Regions from separate parts of the Homo sapiens genome. Here regions 2, 3, 4, 5, 6 and 7 are each linked to region 1. The links come from fine-mapping of genetic effects on gene expression. A gene starts in region 1. Each other region holds a variant in brackets. All regions are shown on one strand. Distances are between the middles of the regions.

Region 1 (4,067 bases):
AGGTCAGGGGTTTGAGACCAGCCTGGCCAACACGGTGAAACCTGCCTCTACTAAAACTACAAAAATTAGCTGGGCATGGTGGCGGGAATCTGTAATCCCAGCTACTCGGGAGGCTGAGGTGGGAGGATCACTTGAGCTGGGGAGGCAGAGGCTGCAGGCGGCCAAGATCACCCCACTGCACTCCAGCCTGGGCGACAGAGTGAGACTCTGTCTCAAAAACAAGAAATGCTGAAGAAACCAATACTCTTTCTTTGATCTCAGACTCTCCAAAGACAAAACAGAATAGATTTTTAATAAAATCAATGACCCTGTATTGACTGTAAGAGCCAGGAGCTGGAGTTTTATATACGTTATGTATTTTATTTGAGACCAGGTCTCCTTCTGTCACTCAGGCCGGAGTGTAGTGACGCTATCAAGGCTCACTGTAGCCTCAACCTCCAGCGCTCAATCGATCGATCCTCCCACCTCAGCCTCCTGAGCAGCTGGGAACTACATGCTCACACCATCACACCTGGCCAATTTTTTTTTGTAGAGTTGGGGTCTTGCTATGTTGCCCAGGCTGTATATTATTTCAGTCCCAACAACACCATGGGGCTAGTATCCCAGCACACTATTAAGAGAAACAGATAAGGCTGGGATTCCAACCCTGGCACTGAGTCCCCTCTCAACGACACCCTTACATTGTCTGTCCGGAATCACAGCGTTTCTGGATTTGGTGATCAGGAGGTTACCTGGAGCCTGCTGAAGTGAAATCTGCATTAACTGTACGTTTCAAAGTGCAAAGAAAAGGAGAAAGCCAAGGTGATGAGAGGCGGGCAGGGAGCAGGAAAAGGGAGGCTGTGTTAGATGGGCACTACATATTTAAACATCCAAAAAAATTAAATTCTGTGAACATCCAAAACAATGTAAGGTCGGGGCAGTTTATTTTACGCTGTTGCCCGGAGCTTCATAACCAACTAGCAGTGGCGTCTGCAAATCTAGTTTCTTCACTTTCGGCAGCCCCAGCCGTGGGCGTGGGAGGTCAAAGACCAAAACTAAACCGTTGCCCTCCAGCGTACCGGCTGGACGCTCTCGACCCATTTAACAAAGGAGAAATCGGCCGGCGCGCTCATCGCCAGTTACATAATGCGTCACAGGCTCTCGGGTGAGGCTTCAGCCCTCCAAAACCAGGCCTAAAATGCTGAGGCCCTAGGGGAAGCTCTGGGGGCGTCCGGGCAGCCACAGCCTACTCTGTCCCGGCGACGTCCCTCTCCAGCGCCCTGGCCTGTGGGGGGAGAGGGGGATCCGGCCTGTTTCCGAACCTAGGTCCCTCTTGGGTCTGAAGCCCGGGAAAAGTGAATGAATTTCTGCCGCAGGCCGAACCTGCCTGGCCACGCCACAGGCCGGGTTCCCGGTGCTCGGGGTGGCCCCCAGGCATGGGACATGGACCCCGGGACCTCTGGCCTGGGGGGGCCTCGACACACGCAGGCTGAACCTCCCCACCGCCCCTGGCCCTGTCTCCGCTGGGTCCCACCCAGGAGGCCGGCACAGGCCTCCGCGCCGTGCCGCTCGCTGCACGCCCGCCGCCCGGTGTACCTGGGTGGGCGTCAGCACTTTGCCCAGCTCGTCCACCGCCGCCCCGGCGTAGGTGACATGCAGCGGGTGCTGCGGCTGCTCGTCCACTTCTTGCAGGCTCAAGGGCCCGGACCACTTGCTGAGGTCCACCGGCATGGCGAGGCCAAGCAGAGCGTGCAGCCGGGAGTGCCGCGGTAGGCCAGGCGCGGGCGACAGAGGCGACGCGGAGAGCTCAGCACACTGGCTCGGGAAGACGCAGACCCAGCGACCACGCGAGAGCACGCGCCTCAGCCGCCGCCCAGCCCCGCGCACCGCCCCACGTCACGCCCACCGCTCCCTGGCCTCTGATTGGCCGAAGCTGGCAGAGCAGGGCCTCTCGCGCTCCTGGGTCCATGCAACCTGCTCCCTGTGGCTGCCGAGTTCTCGGGAACAGCGGCTCGGCCTGCAAGGCTGTTGTTTCAAGAAATGAAAATGAAGGGCGCCCTGGAATAGGTTCGCCGAAGAGAGAGGTTCGTGTCTCAGAAAGTGTCGCTGGGAAAAAAAAATGCAATTGAATTCGCCTTGGTTGCGTTTTGGTTTTCTTAATTTTTTGCATGATTCTTTGCTCCACTTTCCAAATTCAGCAACATGGCCTGTCGCGGTGGCTCATGCCTGTATTCCCAGCACTTTGGGAGGCCAAAGCAGGAAGATCGCTTGAGCCCAGGAGTTTGAGACCATCCTGGACAAGGTAGCAAGACCCCGTCTTTACAGAAAACTTAAAAAAAAAGAAAAAAAGAAAAAAGCCAGACACAGTGGTGCATGCTTGTAGTCCTAGCTACTCCGGAGGCTGGGGCGGGAGGATCACTTTTTTTTTTTTTTTTTTTTGAGACGGAGTCTCTCTGTGTTGACCAGGCTGGAGTGCAGTGGCGTGATCTCGGCTCACTGCAAGCTGCGCCTCCCGGGTTCACGCCATTCTCCTGCTTCAGCCTCCCGAGTAGCTGTGACTACAGGCGCCCGCCACCACGCCCGGCTAATTTTTTGTATTTTTAGTAGAGACGGGATTTCACCGTGTTAGCCACGATGATCTTGATCTCCTGACCTCGGCCTCTCAAAGTGCTGGGATTACAGGCGTGAACCACCACGCCCGGCCGATCACTTCTTGAATCTAGGAGTTTGAGGCCGCGGTGAGCTACGATCTTGCCACTGCACTCCTGTCTGCGCTTCAGAGCCAGATCCCATCTTCTCATACACACACACACACACACACACACACACACACACACACACAGCAAATTCAGAAACAGTAAGGCCTTGCTTTTCTCCTGCACTTTAAAACGAGCCAGATTCTCTGTATTTTCGCACGTGATCACTTGTCATAGTAATTGCCTGGTGAGAGCACCTGAGTGAACTTTTGAGCATTTAAATATATGGGGAAATGTATTTGTCCGTTTTCTCCACACACAAAATTCGTCCTCACAAAATTCCTGAGAAATGTTTGGGTTTTGGTTTTTTATGTTTGTTTTTTGAAAAACAATTTTAAACCATATTTATTCATACCAAAACTGCTCTTACTGTGACCACAAGCTGCTTGCTTTTTGCTGAATATGATAAGCACTATTTTTTTTTTTTTTTTTTGAGACGGAGTCTTGCTCTGTCGCCCAGGCTGGAGTGCAGTGGCGTGATCTCAGCTCACTGCAACCTCTGCCTCCCGGGTTCAAGCAATTCTCCTGTCTCAGCCTCCCGAGTAGCTGGGATTACAGGCAGGCGGCACCGCGCCCAGCTAATTTTTGTATTTTTAGTAGAGACAGAGTTTCACCATGTTGGCCAGGCTGGTCTCGAACTCCTGACCTCATGATTCGCCTGCCTCAGCCTCCCAAACTGCTGGGATTACAGGCAATAAGCCACCGCGCCCAGCCAATAAGCACTATTTAACAGTTCTTATCTGTTTTGACTCTTGACATTGATAATTCCTCCCATGGAATAAAAAGTTGTCTCTTGATTTACATTCTTACTAGGAAATAATACGAGTTCATTGTAGAAAATCAAAGAAAAAAACCCAAAGAAGTAGAAATCCCCTTCTATCCCACTACTTTGTTATAAACGTCAGTAATCATTTAGGGTATATCTTTCCTATTTAAAAATAATATGAGTATAGATGATTTTGTTGTTTATTCACCAAAAGATTGCATTATATCCTACCATTATAAAATAGTCATATCAAAAATAGGTCGTCAGGCCAGGTGCGGTTGCTGAGGCCTCTAATCCTAGCACTTTGGGAGGCTGAGGCAGGAGGATCACTTGAGTCCAGGAGTTTGAGACCAGCCGGGACAACATGGTGAAACCCCATCTCTACAACAAAATACAAAAATTAGCCCGGTATGGAGGGATGTGCCGGTAGTCACAGCTACTACCAAGGCTGAGGCAGGAGGATCACTTGAGCCTGGGAGTTTGAGGCTGCAGTGAGCCGTGATTGTGCCACTGCACTCCAGCCTGGGCGACAGAGTGAGACCCTATCTCTACAAAAATAAAGCAAA
Region 2 (4,067 bases), 68 kb before region 1:
AAGAGTTTATCTCATGTAATAGGAAGTCCAGGACATTGGAAAAGGAAGTGGCGTAAGCAGTCCAAAGCTCTAAGCAGCTCAACAATGTCGTCATCGACCCAAGCTCTTTCTCTCTTTCTACTTCACCATCCTTAGCATGTAGCTTTTATTGTCTTTGTCATAAAATGGCTGCTACATTGCCATGACTCAAGTTTTCATTCCAGGCAGGAAGAAGGAGAGAGAACAAAGGGTAAAACACCTTGTCCTCATGTGTCTTGCCTTTTTATTCTAGAAAATAAAACCTTCCTTGAGAACTTCTGCCTACCTCTCACTGGCCAGAACTTAGTCACTTAGTGATCTGTAACCACAAAGAAGGCTTGGGTTCAGTTCCTTTACTTCCTAGTGCTTCAAGTAAGGCAAAAAAAAAAAAAAGAGAGAGAGAGAGATTGGGTCTGAAAGCTGTGGCTCATGCCTGTAATCCCAGCACTTTGGGAGGCTGAGGTGGGTGGATCACCTAAGGTCAGGAGTTTGAGACCAGCCTGGCCAACATAGTGAAACCCCATCTCTACTAAAAATACAAAAAGTAGTTGGGCGTAATGGTGCACGCCTGTAATCCCAGCTACTGGGGAGGCTGAGGCACAAGAATCACTTGAACCTGGGAGGCAGAGTTTGCAGCGAGCTGAGATTGCACCACTGCACTCTAGCCTGGGTGATAGAGTAAGACTTTGTCTCAAAAAAAAAGAAGTTGGAATGGGGGAATGACATGTAGTATCTGTTGCAATGAATGATCATACCTGTATTTTAGAAAGATAATTATGGTAGTAGGACACCAGAAAATAACCACCACCACCCACACCCCTGGCAGAAAAAAATTTTTAAAGCCTGAGTTGCAGCCGTAGCTCTTCTACTAATTAGCTATGGAAATCACCTAACTTCTCAGGGCCCAAATTTTCTCACTTTGAAAAAGAAAAATTTTCTTTCTTTTTTTTTTTTTGAGACAGAGTCTTTCTATGTCACCCAGGCTGGAGTGCAGTGGCCTGATCTCGGCTCATTGCAAGATCTGTCTCCCAGACTCAATTGATTCTCGTGCCTCAGCCTCCCGAGTACCTGGGACTATAGGCGGGCACTACCACGCCTGGCTAATTTTGGTATTTTTTATTTTTACTTCTTATTTATTATTTTTATTTTTTTTAAACAGAGTCTCACTCTATCACCTAGGCTGGAGTGCAGTGGCATGATCTCGGCTCACTTCAGCCTCCTTCTCCCAAGTTCAAGCAATTCTCCTGCCTCAGCCTCCCGAGTAGCTGGGACTACAGGCACGTGCCAACATGCCCTGCTAATTTTTGTATTTTTAGTAGAGACGGAGTTTCATCATGTTGGCCAAGCTGGTCTTTGATACTCCTGACCTCATGTGATCCCCCTGCCTCGGCCTCCCCAAGTGCTGGGATTACAGTTGTGAGCCACCATGCCCGGTCCCTAATTTTGGTGTTTTTAGTAGAGATGGGGGTTTGCCATGTTGGCCAGGCAGCTCTTGAACTCTTAGTCTCAGGTGATCTGCCC[G/A]CCTTGGCCTCCCAAAGTTCCGGGATTACAGGAATGAGCCACCATGCCCAGCCTTGAAACAGAAAGTTTTCTAAGAGGCATTCCCGTTCTAAAATTCTATGATGTTAAGTCATAGCTTTAAGTTTACTAAAAACCGATTAGCTCTTTATAATTGTAAGCACTAGAGGAGGAAAATGATAATACTTTCTTCCTTTCTTTCTCATCCTTGAAATGTGCAGGCTACACTTGCTTCTGGGAATGATGTTTTTTATTCAAAAAGGACTCTACCTAGGAAGAGGTATTTTATAAAAGCAACAGCAAAAACCACAATTCCTCTAAGAGAGTCAGAATGCAGAACCACAAGACATATAGATTGTTTTCTCACAAGGGCCCTATTATTTTTTATCTGTTTAAATTATAAAGAAATTAAATTCATTTCATCAGCTAAGGCCCACTACATTATATCTCATTTTCCCAATGTCTTCAAATTACAATTTTACATAAGTAAATTTTCCACATAACTGAACTTTTGCCTTTAAAAAATAATGTCTTTTTTTTTTTTTTTTCCATTCTGTCACCCAGGCTAGAGTGCTGTGGTGCAATCTCGGCTCACTGCAACCTCTGCCTCCCAGATTCAAGCCATTCTCCTGCCTCAGCCTCCTGGCTTGCTGGGATTACAGGCATGCATCACAATGCCCAGCTAATTTTTTGTGTTTTTAGTAGAGACGGGGTTTCACCATGTTGGCCAGGCTAGTCTCAAACTCCTGACCTCAAGTGATCAGCCTGCCTCGGCCTTCCAAAGTGCTGGGATTACAGATGTGAGCCACCACGCCCAGCCTAATGTCACTTCTTGAGGGCTCAGAAACAGTGTTTCGTGAACTCTTGAGGCATAAAAGGGGCTATATAAGGGGCATTTGCCCTTTTGCAAAATAGCCCACAAACCTGTTTTATTATTATTTGTTTGGTTGATAGGTCTGTTAGTCATGAAATTTCTCTCTGTTTCTCTACTCTCAAGCTGTCAGAGAACTTACAAAAGCTACTTCTTTTTACAACAGGTGGTAACCCTACCTTTCCCAGTCCTCAATCCTTTACTCCTCACTCTTTTTTTTTTTTTTTTGAGATGGAGTTTCACTCTTTTTGCCCAGGCTGGAGTGCAATGGTGTGATCTCAGCTTACCGTAACTTCTGCCTCCCAGGTTCAAGCAATTCTGCTGCCTCAGCATCCCGAGTAGCTGGGATTACAGATGCACGTCACCATGCCCAGTTAATTTTGTATTTTTAGTAGAGAAAGGGTTTCACCATGTTGGCCAGGCTGGTCTTGAACTCCTGATCTCCAGTAATCCACCCGCCTCAGCCTCCCAAAGTGTTGGATTATAGGCGTGAGCCACCGCGCCAGGCTTACTTCTCCATTCTTATTCTCTGTCTAACCTGCTATGGGCTGAGAAACTAGGAAACCAGATTATGTAACAATCATTAATAATATTGAAAGTGAGGGATGTTTATATCAAGATTAATTTATGGACTTTAGGGCAGTTGTTTTCACTCCTCAGAGACCCTTTTTTTTAATTGGGGAAATGAAGTTGCCAGAATTTTGACCTCTGGATAAATTGAACAACTGGCATATTTTCAAGCATACACTATACGGCCACAGAAATAGAGAACAAAATATTCACAAGTCTGTTTTTCAAGGGATAGTGTGTATGGGGGTGAGGATTGAGGCAAGTTATAATAAGAATAGAACAAGGTGCGGTGCGGTGGCTCACGCCTGTAATCCCAACACTTTGGGAGGCTGAGGCGGGTGGATCACTTGAGCTCAGGAGTTTAAGACCAGCCAAGGCAACATGGTGAAACCTCGTCTCTACTAAAAATACAAAAATTAGCCAGGCATGGTGGTGCATGCCTGTAATTCCAGCTACTCGGGAGGCTGAGTCAGGAGAATTACCTGAACCCAGGAGGTGGAGGTTGCAGTGAGCCAAGATCGCACCACTGCACTCCAGCTTGGGTGAGAGAGCGAGACTCCATCTCAAAAAAAAAAAAAAAAAAAAAAAAGAATAGACTATACTATGCATTGCTTCTGCTTATTATGTAGTTTCAGATTTAAAAGGTACAAGCCTACCTCCTACTTCTTAAAGTTCTAGTGATTTTTTTATTACTTATATGATAAAGTAAACCTCAAGAATTCTTATATGAAAAGATACTCAACATTCACTAATTATTGGAAATGGAAATGAAAACCACAATGAGGTATCACCTCACACCTGTTAGAATGGCTATTATCAAAAAAGATAAGCGATAATAAGTGGCAAGGGTATAGAGAAAAGGGAATCCTTATATACTGTTGGTGGGAATGTAGATTGGGGTTGCCATTATGGAAAACAGTATGGAGGTTCCTCCAAAACCCAAAAAACAAAATGTTAATTTGTTCCAATAATCCCCCTGCTGGTTATATACCTGAAGAAAATGAAGTCAGCACCTCATAAAAATACCTGTGCCCCCATGTTCATCACAGCATTTTTCTCTATAGCCAAAATAAGGAAACATCCTATGTGT
Region 3 (4,067 bases), 39 kb before region 1:
GCTTGTAATCCCAGCTACTCAGGAGGCTGAGGCAGGAGAATCACCTGAACCCAAGAGGCAGAGGTTGCAGTGAGCTGAGATCGCACCACTGCACTCCAGTCTGGGCGACAAGAGCAAAACTCTGTCTCAAAAAAAAAAAAATTACCTAAAATGCTATTAAAACAGATTGCTAACCCACCCCCAGATTTTCAGATTTTATTTTATTTATTTATTTATTTTTTTATCTGACTGATTTTCAGATTTTAAAAATCTATCCCTAGATTTTCTGGGGTAGAGTTTGAAAATTTGTGTTTCTAACAAGCTCCCAGATGACGCTGCTGCTACTGCTTCAGGGACCACATTTCAAGAACCATTGATATAACTCTAAACCATTCTTGTCTTCTTCCTATGTATTTTCCACATCAGTCAAAGTGATCTTTTCAAACCATAAATCTGGTCATTCTACTGCATAGTTTTGAAATCCATTGTCTTCCCATTGCTTTTAGGACAAGTCAAAATCCTAGAAGTCCCTACACAGTCCCCTCCTAGCCTACTCGTTCAGTGACATCTCACACTAATGCTGCCCCTACCCTCAACCCACTCTTCGCTGCACCAGCCACCATGGTCACCTTTCAGTTCCTCAAATTTATCAAGCTCCACCCTTCCCCAAGGTCTTTCCACATACTGTTTCTTCCACCAAGATGTTCTCCCTACCCCCAAGCCCTCCCTGACCACAATTTTGCTCGGTTAATTCCTACTTCTCCTCCTTGTGCAATGCGGGATTGGTTATTAGGATCTTAACTTAAATGTCACTTTCCTAAGGAAGCCTTTTCTAACTGCCTCAGCCAAGACAGATGTCTCTGGTTTCCTAACTAGAGCCTTTAATTATACATTTGTTTAATGATTATTTGAGCTACTTACTCTACTAACTGGTAAGCATCATAAGAGCACAGACCATGTTTTTGTTTGCTCACAACTGTATCCCTGTGCCCTGTACACATGAATATTTGGTAAATGAATGATTGATTCTGGAATATTTGGTTGAAGACCACTAGTGGACTTAGGAGTTCTTCCCAAAGAACTGCACTTTGATCTGAAAGCTCAAATTTCTTCAGTTCTCCTTTTACCAGTACTTACAGGTGAATCGTCTGCAGCTCCATGGACTTTTCTTCTCATAAACCTTAGTATTTCTTATTTGTAGACTTACTAAGTGTATTAAGGTTTAATAAAATTCAATATGGCGCATTGTTTTAGTATATATAAAATCATGTGTTTGAGCTCATATTCTTTATTTTTTTTTCTTTTGAGATGGAGTTTCGCTCTTGTTGCCCAAGCTGGAGTGCAATGTCATAGTCTCGGCTCACTGCAACCTCCACCTCCCGGGTTCAAGCAACTCTCCTGCTTCAGCCTCCCAAGTAGCCGAGATTACAGGCGTGCACCACCATGCCCAGCTAATTTTTTGTATTTTTAGTAGAAACAGAGTTTCACCATGTTAGCCAGGCTGGTCTTGAACTCCTGACCTCAGGTAATCCTTCACCTCAGCCTCCCAAAGTGCTGAGATTACAGGCGTGAGCCACCACGCCTGGCCTGAGCTCATATTCTGATTTGTAGGTTAGCAATAGAGGACTCAGCAAGGTTCTCCTCCAATTCTTTTTTAGTTAGGAAGTGAAACCAAGGGGGTTGGGGTGGGCCTAGGGATTTTTTGTCCTGCCCAGGTAAGCCACTGGTAATTGTTAGACCTAACAGAAAATTGTATTTGATTTACACTGGCTGAATGGGTAGAATCTCTGACACCATAAGGTCTAGAAAACCCGGGTGTAGAGAGAATAGCCCAACTCAGAAGGTTCACATTCTTTCCATTTTCTCTGAGTTATTGGCTTGAGCTTAATTTTTATATCATAATATGATGTTGCTGGATCAGAGATAGCCTAAGAAATTTTGAGGTTTTTCTCCACTCTAAATACCTTCCTTGGCTGGGCACGGTGGCTCATGCCTGTAATCCCAGCACTTTGGGAGGCCAAGGTGGGTGGATCAACTGAGGTCAGGAGTTCAAGACCAGCCTGGCCAACATGGTAAAACGACATCTCTATAAAAATACAAAATTAGCTGAGCTTGATGGCGGG[C/T]GCCTGTAATCCCAGCTACTCAGGAGGTTGAGGCAGGACAAATTGCTTGAATACAGGAGGCAGAGGTTGCAGTAAGCCGAGATCACACCACTGCACTCCAGCCTGGGCAACAGAGTAAGACTCTGTCTCAAAAAAAAATCGTAAAATAAAATAAATAGATACCTTCCTTATTTCTAACTCCACGCGTCCACTCATCCACTGGAGGCCATACTTTATGACTATGGCCACCATTTTGAGTTTTTGTAACATTGAGATATTTGGAAATTTCATGAACTCTACCTTCTAGAAGATTTTCCCACAGAACAGCATTTAAGAGTCCCCACTCAGTCCTCAAGCATACGTCAATTTTTGGCTCACCATACTCAGACTTGAGTGCCAAAGCCCACAGGCCTACACTTCTGTCTTTGAACATGCTCATGAAAAAAAAAAAAAAGCCAGAAGCCAATTTGAGATAACCCCACTAGACCATTCTATGCAAAAGCTAATATTACTTTTTCTGAAGTAAAGCTTAGTTCAGACTATTTAAAGTGGCATATATATTTAGATATTTATATACTTACAGATATTGTCCTTGGAATGACAAAAAAATTTTTTCATTATCACCACTTTTGATAGATAACAGGAGTATCTAATACAGAATGATAGATGGTCCAGAAATAATTTATTCTTGATTTTGGAGTAAATTTTTGTGATTATATTTGAATCGGGGTCTGCAGTCTAGTGGTTAATGGCCAACCAAGTAGTGACATCACGGCATGAAGAGATGAATGACCCAGGCTTCCTCTTGTGATCCCAGCTTACTCCAGCTTACTCTGAAAACAACACTTTCTCTTGTTGATTCTAAGATTTCACTTACAGCTTCACTGGAACAGGATAGTTGAAAGTTGATTTACAGAGACTTCTTGGCTAAGAGATAAAATAGTCTATGATATCGGCATCACAAAACATTAAGTAAAATAGGTGTTAGCAACTAAAGGAGATTTTAGCTGAGTGAGTAGCTAACCAAATGAAGAAAGAAGAGTATACTGTACTTTCTTAACAAGTAGTCTTCTTCTTTTCACCACAGTTTAACATCTTAACAGTCCTGATTCACTGCTTTGTTTCCTTTGCTCAGATGTTCTGGAAAAATTGTGAATTTTGTCCTTGGAAAATATAGATGGTTTGTTTACTCTATAATCCCAAGTGAAGAATGTTTTTTCCTAAAATTCAAACTAGTGACATTTGCATAGTCACCTCTTCTCTTTGGAATCTGTCTGCTTCTCTCAGTCTTGTCACTACTTCCTTTGTCCAAGCTACTACCATCTCTCTTGCCTGGACCTTTCCAGTAGCCTCCCAGCTATCTTCATATGTTCTTGCCTCCTTCATTCTGTTCTCCCCATGGCAGCCAGAGTAATCATTTTCAAATGCATCTCATTATGACACTCTCACATGCATGAAATCCATTTCTCCTATACTAAAGATCAGTGTCCTTATATTGGCCTGTAAAGCCTCAATGGTCCTGCCTACCTGGCCAGACTTATCTCATATTACGTTACACCAGCCCCTCTGACCTTCTTTCAGCCCTTGATGGCACCATGTTTCCTCTCCAACCCCTAGGGTTTTGCACATGCTGTTTTCTCTACTGAGAGTATTCTTCCCTTTCCTTTTCCGCTGGTTAACTCTGAATAATTTTTCTTAGTTACTACCAAGATTAAATATTTTCTATTAAATTCTTCTAGGGCCAAGTACGTCCTCTTCAAAGCAGTGATCACAGTAATTTTTAGTTCATTTCTGCGGTTCTTTAATTTTTGATTCTATAATAAAGACACACGGTGGCAGTTATCATGGCCTTTTACTCACCTTTGTGTCCTGTATCTTGCACACTGCCTGTCACATGATAGGAGCTTGTTAAGTTTGTGTTGAGTGAATGAGTGAACAAATAATTTCTGTTAGTGAGAAACCAAAGATACAGAAACTCACAAGTGT
Region 4 (4,067 bases), 63 kb before region 1:
GCAGCATGTAGAGAGATCCATAAATATAAGGCAGGCTTCTTCATCTTTAAATGCAGTAGAGATGGAGCCAGGGCAGAGTCAGAGGCACCGAAGATAGAAGAAAGGGATATAGTTAAAGAGGCAGGATTTCAGAACGTAGACATAACAAGAACAGGAGTATTTTAGCTTTTTAACAGAAAATAAAATAAACATAAAAGTATTTTATCAATAATTTTAAAAATGAAGCTCGGAAAGTTGCATTGAACTATAAAATTTCTTGATTGCATATATAGAAATGATCCCCTTTAATTGGGAAAATAAGTCTGTTAAAAATAATGTATTATCTTCCATTTTATATTACCCAGTAATTTTTTATATTGCCATGGCTAAGTAACAGTTTATTAAAGTTATATGTGTACCATATGGTTTTTTGAGAACAAGGTTTATTTGTAGCTAAATGGATTTAATTTTATTATTCAATCTTATATCAAAAGATATCCCACTGTGATGGATAAATTATATGTTCTGATTATTTTACCACTTTTCAAATAGTAGTCTTTGGGCCAGTAATGATGAATACCAGTATTATTTAACAGATATATATAATAAGATTACAGAGATAAGCATGATAGAATCGCTTGAGGGAGGCAGACTTTAATTACCTGTCCAGGAAAGTAGAATTAATATTTCTGCTTAGATATGAAGTTACTCAATAATGACTTGCAGAGGGAGCATATTGCTTGTCAAATATCTGAAAACTCTTTCCACTCTACTTTTTCAAGTGACCACTGCTGTATTTGAAGATATCCTAGAGCTCACCTGTTTAGTGGCCAGCAGTCTTCCTCTAGCTCCTTGATGTTCCAGAAGGTCCCTTACAAACCTGGCTTGATTTTGCTTACTGAATAGCAACACGATAATATGATAGTGTGTATGACAGGGGAAAGCCCTGGGATGGCAGCATTTGGAGCCTTATGACCCACGTCCAGAATGGCCCCTGGGGAAGGCATAGGAAGCAAATATGAGATGTATGAAAATGGTGGAGGAGTAGTGGAGCCAGTACATAAAAAGTTTGTCTTTGCAGATTGGCAGAAAAGCAACTTGACACTGCAAAATTGAGTGTGCTTGACACTTTTGTCAATGGATTGACTCTTTATCTTCAGTCTTTTTTTCTAACCTCAGTGCCCCATTTTTACAGGACAGTGAACATGGAACCAGCCTGAACAGGGAAATGGACAGCCTGGGCAGCAACCATTCCATTCCAAGCATGTCCGTGAGCACAGGCAGCCAGAGCAGCAGTGTGAACAGCATGCAGGAAGTCATGGACGAGAGCAGTTCCGAACTTGTCATGATGCACGATGACGAAAGCACAATCAATTCCAGCTCCTCCGTCGTGCATAAGAAAGTAGGTTTCTTGGTACCCTCCACAGAGGTGAGCTTTGTCAATCATAGCGAATCCAGTTCAAGTCACTTAGCTTCCAGATGTTTCAGTTACCTTTTTGCAACTGCAGTGTGGTACTAAACCTGGCATGTGACAGTTTTCTTACAGTCAAAAAGTAACAAAGGACTACACAGGCTACATCTGTGCCTATTTCTTCATCTCCCTCTCTCATTACTCTGATGTCCATCATCATCAATAAATAAGTTGAAGAATTTGATAAGTCCTTCTCTAAACCAATAATCTTAATACTGTAGACCTTCAAGTCTTCCTGAGTGTACCTGTTGGTTGTGCCCTTTTAGAAGTATGCTCTTTCAAAAGTATGTTTCTTGGCTGGGCGTGGTGGCTCACATCTGTAATCCCAGCCCTTTGGGAGGCCTAGGCGGGTGGATCACTTGAGGTCAGGAGTTTGAGACCAGCCTGGCCAACATGGCGAAACCCCGTCTTTACTAAAAATACAAAAAATAGCCGGGCCTGGTGACATATGCCTGTAATCCCAGCTACTCGAGAGGCTGAGGCAGGAGAATTGCTTGAACCCAGGAGGCAGAGGTTGTAGTGAGCCGAGATCGCGCCATTGCACTCCAGCCTGGGCAACAGAGTGAGACTCAAAAAAAAAAAAAAAAAAAAA[G/A]AAGAAGAAGAAAGAAAGAAACTTGCCTCGGGTAAAAGGAGGACTTACTCTAGCAGGGAGTAAGAAAAGCCTACCTGATGAGGTGACATTTAAGCAGAAATTTCAAAAACAAATAGAAGCTAGCCAGCTGGGGTAAGAGATGGGGATGAGTCAGAAAGCAACAAGTACAAGAGCACTGAGACAGAGAGAGCTTTGTATGTTCAAGGAAAAGGGGAAGGCCATAGAAGCTATGGCTGGTGTGCTATGTGGACAGTGCCTCAGGACCAGAGAGACAGCAAAGGACCCAGATTATCAGGAAGACATGGAAGCAATTTGAGGAAAGCAAAGATGTCAGACAGATGCAGAAATCTACCAAGAGATCAGCATTGCCAGCTGGTGTCCTTTCAACATGGGCAAGTGATCATGTATTTGAAGAGTAAAAAAGAAGGTTTTGAGGCCAGGCGCAATGGCCGAGGTGGGCGGATCACGAGGTCAGGAGATCGAGACCATCCCGGCTAACATGGTGAAACCCCGTCTCTACTAAAAATACAAAAAATTAGCCGGGTGTGGTGGTAGGCACCTGTAGTCCCAGCTACTCGGGAGGCTGAGGCAGGAGAATGGCGTGAACCTGGGAGGCGGAGCTTGCAGTGAGCCAGGATTGCGCCACTGCACTCCAGCTTGGGCAACACAGTGAGACTCCGTCTCAAAAAAAAAAAAAAAAAAAAAAAGAAGGTTTTGCTGGGCTGTCTTTTTGGAGGGAGTGATCATGAGTGCTGACAGGTCTGGCACTTTCCTTTCTATTACCCCTGGGGCTCTATGAGTAGAGGGGGCAAAAGAGAGGAATTCAGTTGGATCTTTTTGCTCCAGGACTTCTCAGATAGGCAACCAGAATTAGAAGAAAGACACTACTGGCATAATCAACAAGAAAGAAAACCCTGGTCTAGAACTAATGGGATTTTTAATTTTATTTTTGCATGCTGTCATAGACCTACCTTGTGATAATATGAGTGTTTCAATACTTTTCTCTCCCTGATGTGTGATGACTTAAGTAGAACAGATAAAATTTATATTCTGAAGTAGAAGATAATTGCATTTGATCCACAAAAAATATATAGGTCAGGAAGAATTTAAGTTATATATTCCTATTTTATCATGAAATATATAGAGGAAATATGATGGAAGAAAATCAAAACACATTTGCAAATAAAACTTTGGATGAGTTACCTTTAAAATGTAAGTGAGCTCAAAAAATAGAATATATATGAAAACTTAAGATATGGTATCTTTTCATGAAATCCATTTAGTTCTTGTACCTGAGCTTTAAAATATGTTATCTTTAAAAACAATAGAAATAAAAATTATTCATGAAGTTTGTATTGGATGGTTTACTCAAATTCCTAACACTTTTTCACTTGGGAACATAAATAGGATTTTTAACTCTCAACAGAAAATTTTGTATATTAAACTTAGGAATGAGGAAACTAATTTATAGTTCTATCTGCCTCTGTTAGTTTTATTTTACTTTGGACAAATAACAAATCCAATACCTAGAATAGTGCCTGGCGCAGCATAGATGCTCAGTAAATAACTGTGGAATGAATGAATAGACCAACAAAACCAAAAAGAAGGCAGGGAATAAATTAATTACCAAATATTAAATATCATACTCTACTGGTTCATTGAACATAATGGATCAAAAGGATTAAATAATCTTAGCTATCTTTACAGTTTGAGAAAGTTAAATAATAGTTAAATGAAAGTTAAATGAGTACCCAACACAATAAGAACGTGCTTAATAAATACCAAAATATATGAATATGGGAGAAGGAATCTTTTGTCCCTTGATTGTTATAATCAAGCAGATATATCTTTTCTTTTCTTTTTTTAATTTTTGGAGACAGAGTCTCACTGTGTTGCCCAGGCTGGAGTGCAGTGGTGCAATCTCGGCTCACAAGCAGACATATCTTAAATTAGTCAAATTAATTTGACTGGTAGTCAAAACAGATCTGAAACAGATTACCATTTTAGATAGGAAATAAATTTGCT
Region 5 (4,067 bases), 22 kb after region 1:
TAGCTTCAGTAAACACACTCACATGCAGCCCCTCCCAAGTGCTGGCAGGCCATTGTACATGCAGACTGCCAACATATAAAACCACAAGTCAAAGGTCAAACCATGCACTTGAATCTCTCAAGGTCCCTACTGGCCCTCTTCCACGTGTACTTTATTTCCTTGCATTCCTGTTCTAAAACTTTTTTTTTTTTTTTTTTGAGACGGAGTTTCGCTCTTGTTGCTCAGGCTGGAGTGCAATGGCGCGATCTCAGCTCACAGCAACCTCCACCTCCCAGGTTCAAGCCATTCTCCTGCCTCAGCCTCCCGAGTAGCTGGGATTATAGGCATGTGCCATCATGCCCGGCTAATTTTATATTTTTAGTAGAGACAGGGTTTCTCCATGTTGGTCAGGCTGGTCTCGAACTCCGGACCTCAGGTGTTCTGCCCACCTCCCAAAGTGCTGGGATTACAGGCGTGAGCCACCATGCCCAGCTAAAACTTTTTAATAAACTTTCACTCCTGCTGTGAAACTTGCCTTGGTTTCTTACTCTGTCTTATGCCCCTTGGTTGAATTCTCTCTTCTGAGGAGGCAAGGATTCAGGTTGCTGCAGGCCCGTATGGATTCACTGCTACTAACATCTCCATACAACAGAATATAATTTGGCCATAAAATGAAATGAAGTATTGATACAAGCTACAATGTAGATGAACCTTGAGAACATTGCGTTAAGTGAAAGAAGCCAGTCACAACATATATTGCTTGCTTCTGTTAACATGAAATGTCTGGAATAGGCAAAACCATAGAGACAGAAAGTAGATTCATGATTGCTGGGGGTTGGAGGGGGTGGGGAAATTGTGAGTGTGTCTTAGCCTGTTTTCTGTTGCATATATACCACAGACTGGGTAGGGTAATTTATAAAGAAAAAAAGTATATTTAGTACATGGTTCTGGAGACTGAGAAGTCCAAGAGCATGGAACAAGCATCTGGTGAGGACCTTCTTGCTGTATCATAACATAACAGAGGGCATCACATGGCAAGAGGACAAGAGCAAGAGAGCCAGAGAGCGCTTGCTTTTATAACAAAACCACTCCCACGATGGCAACACTAATCCATTCTTGAGGGTAGAGGGACTGAGTTTCCAACACATGAACTTTTGGAGGACACATTCAAACCATAGCAAGGTGATAGCTAAAGGGTATGGGGTGTCTTTCTGGAGTGATGAAAATCTAAAATTGATGGTAGTTATGGTTGTACAACCTTGTGACTATGCTAAAAGCCATTGAATTGTAGACTTTAACTGAGAGAGTTCTATGGGATGAATTATATCTCAATAAAGCTGTTATCAGCAGAGGGTGGTGGCTCATGCCTGTAATCCCAGCACTTTGGGAGGCCAAGGCAGGTGGATCACCTGAGGTCAGGAGTTCAAGACCAGCCTGGCCAATATGGTAAAACCCCATCTCTAATTAAAAAATACAAAAATTAGCCGGGTGTGGTGTTGAGCACCTGTAATCCCAGGTACTCGGGAGGCTGAGGCAGGAGAATCACTTGAACCTGGGAAGCGGAGATTGCAGTAAGCCAAGATTGAGCCACTGCACTCCAGCCTGGGCTACGAAGGAAGACTCTGTCTCAAA[A/C]TAAAATAAAATAAAAATAAAGCTGCTATCAAAAAAACTTTTACTGAATGTTACAAATCTGGATAATCACAATAGAGGGATCTTTATTGTTACATAAACTTTAAAAATACAAATTGCCAGGCGCAGTGGCTCATGCCTGTAATCCCAACACTTTGGGAGGCTGAGGTAAGATTATTGCTTGACCCAGGAGTTTGAGACCAGCCTGGGCAACATACTGAGACTCCATCTCTACAAATTTTAAAAATTGGCCAGGCATGGTGGTGAGGGTCTGTAGTCTCAACTACTCAGGAGGCTGACGTGGGAAGATCATTTGAGCCCAGGAGTTTGATAAGTGTGCCGTGGCACTCCAGCCTAGGCAACAGAGTGAGACCCCAGCTCTCTAAAAAAAAAAAAAACTGGAAAACACAAGTGTTAATGGCTGTATGATATTCCGACAGGGGCATATTAGGTAAACAGTAAAGACTGTAGTCTATGGAAGTTGGTGAGACAGCTCGTCACTGGGGAAGAAGACTAGGGGTTTGGGGTGGACAAAAGGGTTTCTTTCTCTATTTTTTTTTTCTTTTTTTTGAGACAGAGTTTCACTCTTGTCACCCAGGCTGGAGCACAATGATGCATTCTTGGCTCACTGCAACCTCCGGCTCTCAGGTTGAAGTGATTCTCCTGCCTCACCCTCCCGAGTAGCTGGGATTACAGGCACCCGCCACCACGCCCAGCTAATTTTTTTGTATTTTTAGTAGAGACAGCGTTTCACCATGTTGGCCAGGCTGGTCTCGAACTCCTGGACCTCAGGTGATCCTCCCACCATAGCCTCCCAAAGTGCTGGGATTACAGGTGTGAGCCACCGCGCCCAGCCAAAAGGCTTTCTTTCAAGGAGAATTTCACTATAAATTGCTTGGATTTTTTCTTGTTTGTTTGCTTCACTTACTGTTTTTTGTCTTTTGAGACAGGATCTCACTCTATTGCCTAGGCTGGAGTGTGGTAGTATGATCATGGCTCACTGAAGTCTTGAACTCCTGGGCTCAAGTGAGCCTCCTGATTCAGCTTCCAGAGTAGTCAGAGCTACAAGCATGCACCACTATGCCTGGCTAATTTTTAAATTTTTAATAATCTATTTATTTATTGGCTTATGAACAACATAAATGTATTTCTTACAGTTTGGGAGGCTGGGAAGTCCAAGATCAAGGTGCTGGCAAACTTGGTGTCTGGTGGGGGTCCACTCTCTGGTTCATAGATGGCTGTCTTTTCACTGTATCTTCACATGGTGGAAGAAGTGAACAAGCTCCTTTGGGTGTCTTTCATAAGGGCACTAATCCCATTCATGAGGGTTCCACACTCATGACCTTATCCCCTTCCAAAGGCCCCTCTAGCTAATACCATTAACTTAGGGATTTGAATTTCAACATATGAGTTTTGAGGGGACACAAATATTCTGACCATAACACCATACAAAAAAAAATAATTTGGCCAGGTGTGGCGGCTCATGACTGTAATCCCAGCACTTTGGGAGACTGAGGCAGGTGGATCACCTGAGTTCAAGAGTTTGAGACCAGCCTGACCAACATGGTGAAACCCCATCTCTATTAAAAATACAAAATTAGGCTGGGTGCGGTGGCTCACGCCTGTAATCCCAGCACTTTGGGAGGCCAAGGCAGGCGGATCACCTGAGGTCAGGAGTTTGAGACTAGCCTGGCCAACATGGTGAAACCTCGTCTCTACTAAAAATACAAAAATTAGCTGGGTGTGGTGGGTGCCTGTAATCCCAGCTACTTGGGAGGCTAAGGCAGGAGAATCACTTGAACCTAGGAGGCGGAGGTTGCAGTGAGCCGAGATCGCGCCATTGCACTCCGGCCTGGGCGACAGAGCAAGACTCCGTCTCAAAAAAAAAAAAAAAAAATTAGCCAGGGGTGGTGGCGTATGCCTGTAATCCCAGCTACTCAGGAGGCTGAGGCAGGAGAATCACTTCAACCCAGGAGGCGGAGGTTGCAGTGAGCGGAGATCACGCCACTGCGCTCCAGCCTGGGCAACAAGAGTGAAACTCCATCTCAAAAAAAAAAAATTTTATATAGGATTACATACCTAATGATAAAACTTAAGCCATATGGCCGGGCGCAGTGGCTCACGCCTGTAATCCCAGCACTTTGGGAGGCTGAGGCGGGCAGATCATGAGGTCAAGAGATCGAGACCATTCTGGCCAACATGGTGAAACCCTGTCTCTACTAAAAATACAAAAATTATCTGGGCATGGTGGCATGTGCCTGTAGTCCCAGCTACTTGGGAGGCTGAGGCAGGAGACTCGCTTGAACCCAGAAGGCGGAAGTTGTAGTGAGCCGAAATTGTGCACTGCACTCCAGCCTGGCAACAGACTCCTCTGTCTCAAATTACAAAAAATAAAATAAAATAAGCCATACAAATTCTAGAAAAACACAGTAGCGTATCTCTGTGACCTGCAGGTAGGC
Region 6 (4,067 bases), 120 kb before region 1:
AAAAAAGTTAAGAGCTTGAAGTTGAGCTTTGTGCATTTCCACTGTATGCTAAGCTCTTTCCTGCCTCAGAGCCTTATATGTGCTATTACCCCACCTAGAAAACTCTGCACATTACATCCCCATGCCTGTCCGTTCATCCTACAAGTTTTACCTTAAGTATTACTTTTGCAAGATACCCTTTACTGTTCAAGACTCCACCCCTAAATCAATACTTTATGATTTCATAACATCTTGTTCTTATATTTTGTTGCATTTATCACAGTTGTAATAAAACAATTACGTATACGATTTTTTGCTTTATATATGTCTTTTTCCCTAAATAACAAGTGTCATGAGGACAGGGTTTATGTCTATCTTGTTCATCGTTACAGACTCAAGAACTAGTATATGCCTGACAGTAGTAGGAATTTGATAAATAATGGATGGGTGGATGGATGGATGGATGGATGGATGGATGGTGGATAGACAGATAAACAGATGAACAGACAACTATTCAGAGAAAGGGACTGACAGTGATTTTTAGTGGCAATCATGTCAAGTCAGTATTTTCGTTTAAGGGGTACAAGGCTGTACCCCTAGAATCAGTTTTAGTTCCAAGAATGTGACTATCTCCTGATGAGAAAAACAAATAGCCAAAATTTTAACACAGCTTATTCACCTGAAATTCATTACATAAAATACAGTTTGTTTGTTCTTTTGTTTGTTTTTTGAGACAGAGCCTCGCTCTGTAGCCCAGGCTGGAGTACAGTGGCACGATCTTGGCTCACTGCAACCTCCGCCTCCTGGATCCCAGTTCAAGCAATTCTCCTGCGTCAGCCTTCCACATAGCTGGGATTACAGGCATGTGCCACCACGCTCAGCTAATTTTTGTATTTTTAGTAGAGACCGGGTTTCACCATGTTGGCCAGGCTGGTCTTGAACTGACCTCGTGATCTGACCACCTCGGCCTCCCAAAGTGGTGGGATTACAGGCGTGAGCCACTGCACCGGGCCCTGTTTTTTTTTTTTTGTTTGTTTGTTTGTTTGTTTTAAGACAGTCTTGCTCTGTCGCCCAGGCTGGAGTGCAGTGGCACAATCTCGGCTCACTACAACCTCCACCTCCCGGGTTCAAGCAATTCTCCCGCCTCAGCCTCCTGAGTAGCTGGGATTACAGACACCTGCCATCATGCCAGGCTAATTTTTGTATTTTTGTAGAGATGGGGTTTTACTGTGTTGGCCAGGCTGGTCTTAAACTCCTGACTTCAGGTGATCTACCCGTCTCGGCCTCCCCAAAGTGCTGGGATTACAGGCGTGAGCCACCGTGCCAGGCCAAAATATAGTTATTTAATTTAACAAATACTTCCTTAAGCATAATAGTCCATTAAAGCAAATAATAAATTAAGTACTAATTATTACCTACTTCTCCAAACTTGTAATCAAATAATTTCTTTGTAATCAAACATTACTGACTCTTCCATTTTAAGTGGTCCTTTATGTTCTGCCATCTGGATAGGGCTTATCTTTAGTTGTCCTTCCAAATGAGATTATTTTATGAATTGCATCTTTACTTTGTCCTTTTGCTTCTAGCCAAATCTTCAGCCTGGATTTTCTCTAAACTGTTTCTCAACCACTGCGTCTATGCTCAGCCCTACCATTACTTCTGCTTCCCTCACTACCATCAATAACTTGGCTCCCACTGAAGTATATTTTGTCATTAAATACAATAAAAGATTTTTCTGGCTGAAAAGGGTGCTAATTTCGGCTGGGCGCAGTGGCTCACGCCTGTAATCCCAGCACTTTAGGAGGCTGAGGCAGGCGGATCACGAGGTCAAGAGTTCGAGACTATCCTGGCTAACACGGAGAAACCCCGTCTCTACTGAAAAATAGAAAAACTTAGCCGGACATGGTGGTGGACGCCTGTACTTAGCTACTTAGCTACTCGGGAGGCTGAGGCAGGAGAATGGCGTGAACTCGGGAGGCAGAGCTTGCAGTGAGCCAAGATTGTGCCACTGCACTCCAGCCTGGGGGACAGAGTGAGA[C/T]TCTGTCTCAAAAAAAAAAAAAAGAAAAGAAAAAAGGGTGCTAATTTCTTAGTTAACACTCCCTTGTTAGTGTGTAGTCAGAATATCATTTAAGGCCCAAAGTTCTGTCTTCTTTAGTCTCAGGTCCTCTTGTTAACAAAGCGTTTTTATTATAAGTATACATAAAGAAGTATATACAATATACATATCTATTTTAATATAGAACTTCAGAAAGAATTAAAAGGTAAATCTCTGTGTAAAAACACCACCCAGATCAAGAAATACAATACTGCCAGCATCCCAAAAGCCCCTCTTTATGTCTCCCTCAGTCAGAACCCTCTCCGTCCCCTTAAGAGTATCCACCATTCTGATTTTTATGGTGATTATTTTCTTACTTTTCTTTATAGTTATAACCCACTTAATCTGTACTCCTAAAAATGTAAATTGGTTTTGCTTAGTTTTGAACTTTTTAAAAATGGAAACATCTGTATATATTCATTTGTGACCTGTTTGTTTTGCTTACAGATGTATTCTTCTGTCATCTTTGCTTTCTTTTCTTCTATTATTTTAAATCTAATTCATCTTCTCAGAATCTCTCCTGGCAAGAGTCAGTCTCTATTTGACTCTTCTCATTTAAAAAGCAGCCAAGGCCGGGTGCAGTGGCTCATGCCTGTAGTCCCAGCACTTGGGAGGCCGAGGCGGGTGGATCACGAGGTCAGGAGATCGAGACCATCCTGGCTAACATGGTGAAACCCCATCTCTACTAAAAATACAAAAAATTAGCCAGGCATGGTGGCGGGCGCCTGTAGTCCCAGCTACTGGGGAGGCTGAGGCAGGAGAATGGCATGAACCCGGGAGGTGGAGCTTGCAGTGAGCTGAGATTGTGCCACTGCACTCCAGCCTGGGGGACAGAGTGAGACTCTGTCTCAAAAAAAAAAAAAAGCAGCCAAACCCTTCTTAAAGTGCTAATGTTTCAGAATGACTACAATAAACCAAGCATGCTTTGAAACTTACTAAAAGCCATTTATAATAGTGGCAAAATGAGACCTACGTTGTACTAGGCTGCAGAAGACCTAGTGGTTTATTTGCTTTTTGGGCTAAGCCCTGTCTATTTAGCTAGAGTGTGTGCGTTTTTGAAGGTGAGGACTATTTCTAATATTTGTTTACAACTCTAAAGGCTGGCACGATCTCATTTACAGTAGGCACTAAATATATATTATTTGTTGCTGATGATAGACTAGAGAAATGATACAGGTAGCAGAGTGGCATTGATAAACGTAATCATTAACTCTATAGGGCCTGTATATAAATGTGAAAAGTACAGGCCTATGTACACCCATAAAGCACTAAAAAACAGATTAAAAGGGAATTAACTGACACTGTACTATAGAACTTACGAAAAGCTTTAACCTTTTATCTGTAGTGGTCACATGGGCAGTACCTTAAAAATGGATTTTCCTGTTGGCCAAAGTAGTATTTATATAAGTTGCTTCTTACTCCGTGCTAATAGATTTTTCCTTTTGTTACTTGTACCATTATTACCAGGAAGACTCTGCTATCTCTTATTTGGACAACTATGATTGCCTGCTTTGGTCTCTTCAGTCTGTTGTGCATACCTCGATGAGCTTGAAAAAAGAAATGTAAATCTCATCCCATCCCCTTTCCCTATAAAGCCTTTAGGGGCTCTCCCTCGTTCTTAGGCCAAGATCAAAATCCCTACTATAGCCAGCCCACAAGGTCCTTCATGGTCCCTATCTCTACTTGAGCTATCTTCTCTCTCATTCTCATTGCTGTAGCTCTGATTCCTTTCTTCTGATCATCCTTCCTGGAATCTTGCGTAAACTGTTCTCTCTCGAATATTTCTCCCTTCTATTTTCACCTTCTTAACTCCTGTTCATCATTTAGCTCTCAGCCTAAACCTCATTTCTTCAGGGAAGGCTTTCCTGACCTCCCTAAGTCACATCCACCGTTGTTGGTTCTCAAAGTAACAAATACCCTTCTTTGTGGCACATATCAGAATTGCAGTTTTACATTTTGTCTTTTATTGTTTTATTTTTGTTATTGTCTATCC
Region 7 (4,067 bases), 110 kb before region 1:
AGGCACAGGTGCGGAGACGATGCCAGTGCCCCTGGGTGCAGGGATGAGGCGCACCAGCACAGAGCCGCAGCGGCCTGTCACCTTGCAAGGGACAGTGTGGGGCTTGCCGATCTTGTTCCCCCAGTAGCCTCTGCGCACGGGGACAATGGAGAGCTTGGCCAGGATGATGGCCCCACGGATGGCGGTGGCCACCTCCTTGGAGCACTTAACACCCAGACCGACGTGGCCATTGTAGTCCCCGATAGCAACAAACGCCTTGAACCTGGTGCGCTGGCTGGCACGGGTCTGCTTCTGCACTGGCATAATCTTCAAAACCTCATCCTTGAGAGAGGCCCCCAGGAAGAAATCAATGATCTCTGATTCCTTAATGGGCAGGGAGAAGAGATAGATCTCCTCCAGGGACTTGATCTTCATGTCCTTGACCAAGCGGCCCAACTTGGTGACGGGCATCCACTCCTTATCCTCGGCCTTGCCTCCGCGAGCTCCGCGGCCTCGGCCCCGGCCCCGTCCACGGCCGCGACCCCGGCCCCGGATGCCACTGCCGAAACCTCCGCGGAAGCCACCGCGGTTCCCCATCCCAGGGCCACCAGGGCCTCCGTGCCCCCCCGCTGCACCGGCGTCATCCGCCATTTGTTGTTTTCTCGGAAAAGAAGCAATTCTTTTATAATTTTTTCTACACGTATACTCACATTATTACTATTTTGCAAAAATTGGATTCTACTTTATAGCTTGTTTTTGACCAAAACATTTTTAACATCTTTTCATATTGCATTGCACATAGATTACCTCATTCCTTAAGTGGTTATTTTATTATATGGTCATATCATATTTATTTATTTAACTGGTTCTCCATTGATGGACAGTTTACAAGGTGAAGCCAGAATGGGTCATTTGGGAATATGACATTTTTTGTTTGGTTTGATATATTAAACCCTAATCATTTTTTATATTACAATCTTTACATGTATCCAGAAAAGAATATAGATAAACTATACATTAAAATGGGAGTGGAGATGTCTATTTAGCCTATCAAAAAGTGAAGCATCTTTGAACTGTGATACTGCAGTATGGAGATATTATTTTAAATATAATATGAGGCCAGGCACGGTGGCTAACGTCTGTAATCCCAGCACTTTGGGAGGCTGAGGCGGGCAGATCACGTGAGGTCAGGAGTTTGAGACCAGCCTGGCCAAAATGGTGAAACCCCATCTCTACTAAAAATATAAAAATTAGCCAGGTGTGGTGGTGGGTGCCTATAATCCGCAGTTACTTGAGAGGCTGAAGCAGGAGAATAGCTTGAACCCGGGAGGCAGAGGCTACAGTGAGCCAAGATCGTGCCCCAGTGCACTCCAGCATGAGCAACACAGCTCGATTCTTTCTCCAAAAATAAAATAAAACACCTGTAATCTCAGCACTTTGGGAGGCCGAGGCGGGCGGATCATTTGAAGTCAGGAGTTTAAGACCAGCCTGGTCAACATGGTGGAACCCCATTTCTACTAAAAATACAAAAAACATTAGCGTGGCATGGTGGTGCGTGCCTGTAATCCCTGCTGCTTGGGAGGCTGAAACAGGAGAATCGCTTGAACCCAAGAGGTAGAGGTTGCAGTGAGCTGCACTCCAGCCTGAGCGACAGAATGAGACTGTCAATAAATAAATATATAAATAAATAGTCTCTAGTCAAATATTTAAGTTAAATTGGCTGAAACATCACTAATTCTTTTTCTTTTTCTTCTACCCTCTTAACACAGGCTACAAATGCTCACACCAGTGAGGTGGTGGCAATTAAGAAGATGTCCTATAGTGGGAAGCAGACCCATGAGGTGAGATAGAGACAGTTGTATACCTAAACTGAAATAAACAAGTTAGTATGAAATTAACAAAATTCTGGCCGGGCGCGGTGGTTCACGCCTGTAATCCCAGCACTTTGCGAGGCCGAGGTGGGCGGCTCACGAGGTCGGGAGATTGAGACCATCCTGGCTAACATGATGAAACCCCATCTCTACTAAAAATACAAAAAATTAGCCGGGCGTGGTGGCGGGCGCCTGTAGTCCCAGCTACTCAGGAGACTGAGGCAGGAGAATGGCGTGAACCCGGGAGGCGGAGCTTGCAGTGAGCCGAGATCACGCCGCTGCACTCCAGCCTGGGTGACAGAGCGAGGCTCTGTCTCAAAAAAAAAAAAA[G/A]AAAAAGAAAAAAGAAATTAACAAAATTCTTTAAACTTTTTTTTAGAACAATTTTTTTTTCCTTCTTGTGGAGCATATAATAAAAGTTCCTGAAGTTTTTCATACAAATGTGTGAACATTCATAATTATTTTTAAAAAGGCTAATGTTCTAGCTCAATTAACTATTTTGCAGGCTGGATGAGGTGGCTTAGGCCTGTAATCCCAGCACTTTGGGAAGCCAAGGCTGGAGGATCGCTTGAGCCCAGGAGCTCAAGACAAGCCTGGGCAATATGGTGAGACCCCACCTCTACAAAACATCAAACAAACTAGCTGGGTGTGGTGGTGTGTGCCTGTAGTCCAGCCACTCGGGAGGCTCAAGTGGGAAGATTGCTTGAGCCTGGGATGTGGAGGCTTCAGTGAGCTGTGACTGCAACACTGTACTCTAGCCTGGGTGCCTGAAAAGGAAAAAAACTATTTTGCAGACCAGAACATGGGTATGTGTAATGGCTTTTTTGTAATGTATTTGGTGATAGATTTGTGTTTACATGTATTCAAACTAAAGAAATGGCATGTTTAGGCCGGGCACAGTGTCTCACGCCTGTGATCCCAGCACTTTGGGAGGCCAAGGTGGGCGGATCACCTGAGGTCAGGAGTTCGAGACCAGCCTGGCCAACACGGAGAAACCTCGTCTCTACTAAAAATACAAAAAAATTAGTTTGGTCTGGTGGTGCACGCCTGTAGTCCCAGCTACTTGGGAGGCACGAGAATCACTTGAACCTTGAACCGGGCAGCAGAGGTTGCAGTGAGCCGAGATCGTGCCACTGCAGTCCAGCCTGGGCGATAGAGCAAGACTCTGTCTCAATTAAAAACAAAAAGAGAGAGAGAAAGAAATAGCATGTTTAAATAGCTTCTTCATTTATTAAACATTTACTTTATGTCCATTTACAATAATATAAATGATATATACGTATACTTGATAGGAAATACTATTTTCCTATCAAAAATTAAATTAAAATGTTCCTTTTCTGACTTCAATAGAAATGGCAAGATATTCTTAAGGAAGTTAAATTTTTACGACAATTGAAGCATCCTAATACTATTGAGTACAAAGGCTGTTACTTGAAAGAACACACTGCTTGGGTAAGTCGAAGGACCTCTATTATCTTTTACTATTACATTTTTTTCTTTTTCTTTTTTTTCTATTATCTATTTGATCTGTAAAATTACTAATTTCATTTCTGTTCCATTTAACTTTTGTTATCAGTATTTAACATTTGTTAATACTTTGGTGTGTCACTTGGTATATATTCTGTAAGATTAAATGATATCTAGCCTATTAGAAATTCCATTCTATAAACACTCAGAAAGAGATGGTGAAAAGTTGACATCATTTTATAATTATTTGTTTGTAAAAGTAAAAGGCACAGCCTTATATTCTCATCCTAGAATTTTTATCTTTGTCATTTCTCATCCTCCACTCCAGTTCCCCCCATATTTGGAATTGTTCTTGATGTTTTAATTGCTATGTGATTTTTACCAAACAGGGGCCACCATATGATTAAAATAAGAGACTTTTGTTCCACTCTGTCATCTTATTGTGATATATATATATAAATATATATACACATGCACACACACACAGACACACACACACTCATATATATATATATATTTTGTTTGTTTGTTTGTTTGTTTGGAGACAGATTCACTCTTGTTGCCCAGGCTGGAGTGCAGTGGTGCGATCTCAGCTGACTACAACCTCTGCCTCCTGGGTTCAAGTGATTCTTGAACCTCAGCCTCCTGAGTAGCTGGGACTACAGGCACATGCCACCACACCCAGCTAATTTTTTGTATTTTTAGTAGAGATAGGGTTCACCATGTTGGCCACGCTGGTCTCCAACTCCTGAC

Direction of the effects. Positions count from the first base shown, and alleles are read on the strand shown. Sizes are in standard deviations (SD) of each study's normalised expression. Not every link is listed here.
With allele A in place of G in region 4, the expression in prefrontal cortex of the gene that starts at base 1,796 in region 1 is lower (small effect, 0.25 SD a copy in CommonMind).
In carriers of allele G in region 7, the expression in monocytes after LPS of the gene that starts at base 1,796 in region 1 tends to be higher than with A alone (moderate effect, 0.53 SD a copy in Quach 2016).

The links. PIP is the estimated chance that this variant, and not a neighbour inherited with it, causes the effect. A credible set is the group of variants that fine-mapping cannot tell apart.
Region 2: its variant is the best candidate, but not a certain one, in a credible set for the expression of PEBP1 in whole blood (TOPMed, PIP 0.88).
Region 3: its variant is the best candidate, but not a certain one, in a credible set for the expression of PEBP1 in whole blood (INTERVAL, PIP 0.56).
Region 4: its variant is the best candidate, but not a certain one, in a credible set for the expression of PEBP1 in prefrontal cortex (CommonMind, PIP 0.82).
Region 5: its variant is the best candidate, but not a certain one, in a credible set for the expression of PEBP1 in whole blood (TOPMed, PIP 0.56).
Region 6: its variant is the best candidate, but not a certain one, in a credible set for the expression of PEBP1 in blood mononuclear cells (TOPMed, PIP 0.56).
Region 7: its variant is the best candidate, but not a certain one, in a credible set for the expression of PEBP1 in monocytes after LPS (Quach 2016, PIP 0.51).

Annotation. Positions count from the first base shown.
Region 1 is chr12:118,133,853-118,137,919 of GRCh38, reverse strand. It overlaps PEBP1 (phosphatidylethanolamine binding protein 1), which reads right to left and starts at 1,796. Exons shown (of 4, transcript NM_002567.4): 1 at 1,576-1,796. The coding sequence starts at 1,710. It overlaps LOC101928274 (a long non-coding RNA gene), which reads left to right and starts at 1,928. Exons shown (of 4, transcript XR_945409.4): 1 at 1,928-2,063. RefSeq lists a silencer at 1,419-1,508 and an enhancer at 1,501-2,001.
Region 2 is chr12:118,202,273-118,206,339 of GRCh38, reverse strand. The region is part of intron 11 of TAOK3 (TAO kinase 3); the gene reads left to right. Among named protein-coding and RNA genes, the nearest start is that of PEBP1, 68 kb to the right of the region's middle. The variant G/A (reference allele first, on the strand shown) is at 1,540.
Region 3 is chr12:118,172,845-118,176,911 of GRCh38, reverse strand. The region is part of intron 16 of TAOK3 (TAO kinase 3); the gene reads left to right. Among named protein-coding and RNA genes, the nearest start is that of PEBP1, 39 kb to the right of the region's middle. The variant C/T (reference allele first, on the strand shown) is at 2,103.
Region 4 is chr12:118,196,365-118,200,431 of GRCh38, reverse strand. It overlaps TAOK3 (TAO kinase 3), which reads left to right. Exons shown (of 21, transcript NM_016281.4): 13 at 1,175-1,381. Among named protein-coding and RNA genes, the nearest start is that of PEBP1, 62 kb to the right of the region's middle. The variant G/A (reference allele first, on the strand shown) is at 2,043.
Region 5 is chr12:118,111,926-118,115,992 of GRCh38, reverse strand. It overlaps LOC101928274 (a long non-coding RNA gene), which reads left to right. Exons shown (of 4, transcript XR_945409.4): 4 at 1-1,648. Among named protein-coding and RNA genes, the nearest start is that of VSIG10, 9.9 kb to the right of the region's middle. The variant A/C (reference allele first, on the strand shown) is at 1,612.
Region 6 is chr12:118,250,697-118,254,763 of GRCh38, reverse strand. The region is part of intron 3 of TAOK3 (TAO kinase 3); the gene reads left to right. Among named protein-coding and RNA genes, the nearest start is that of PEBP1, 120 kb to the right of the region's middle. The variant C/T (reference allele first, on the strand shown) is at 2,018.
Region 7 is chr12:118,242,647-118,246,713 of GRCh38, reverse strand. TAOK3 (TAO kinase 3) reads left to right here. Exons shown (of 21, transcript NM_016281.4): 4 at 1,749-1,820; 5 at 3,198-3,299. It also overlaps the pseudogene RPS2P5. Among named protein-coding and RNA genes, the nearest start is that of PEBP1, 110 kb to the right of the region's middle. The variant G/A (reference allele first, on the strand shown) is at 2,181.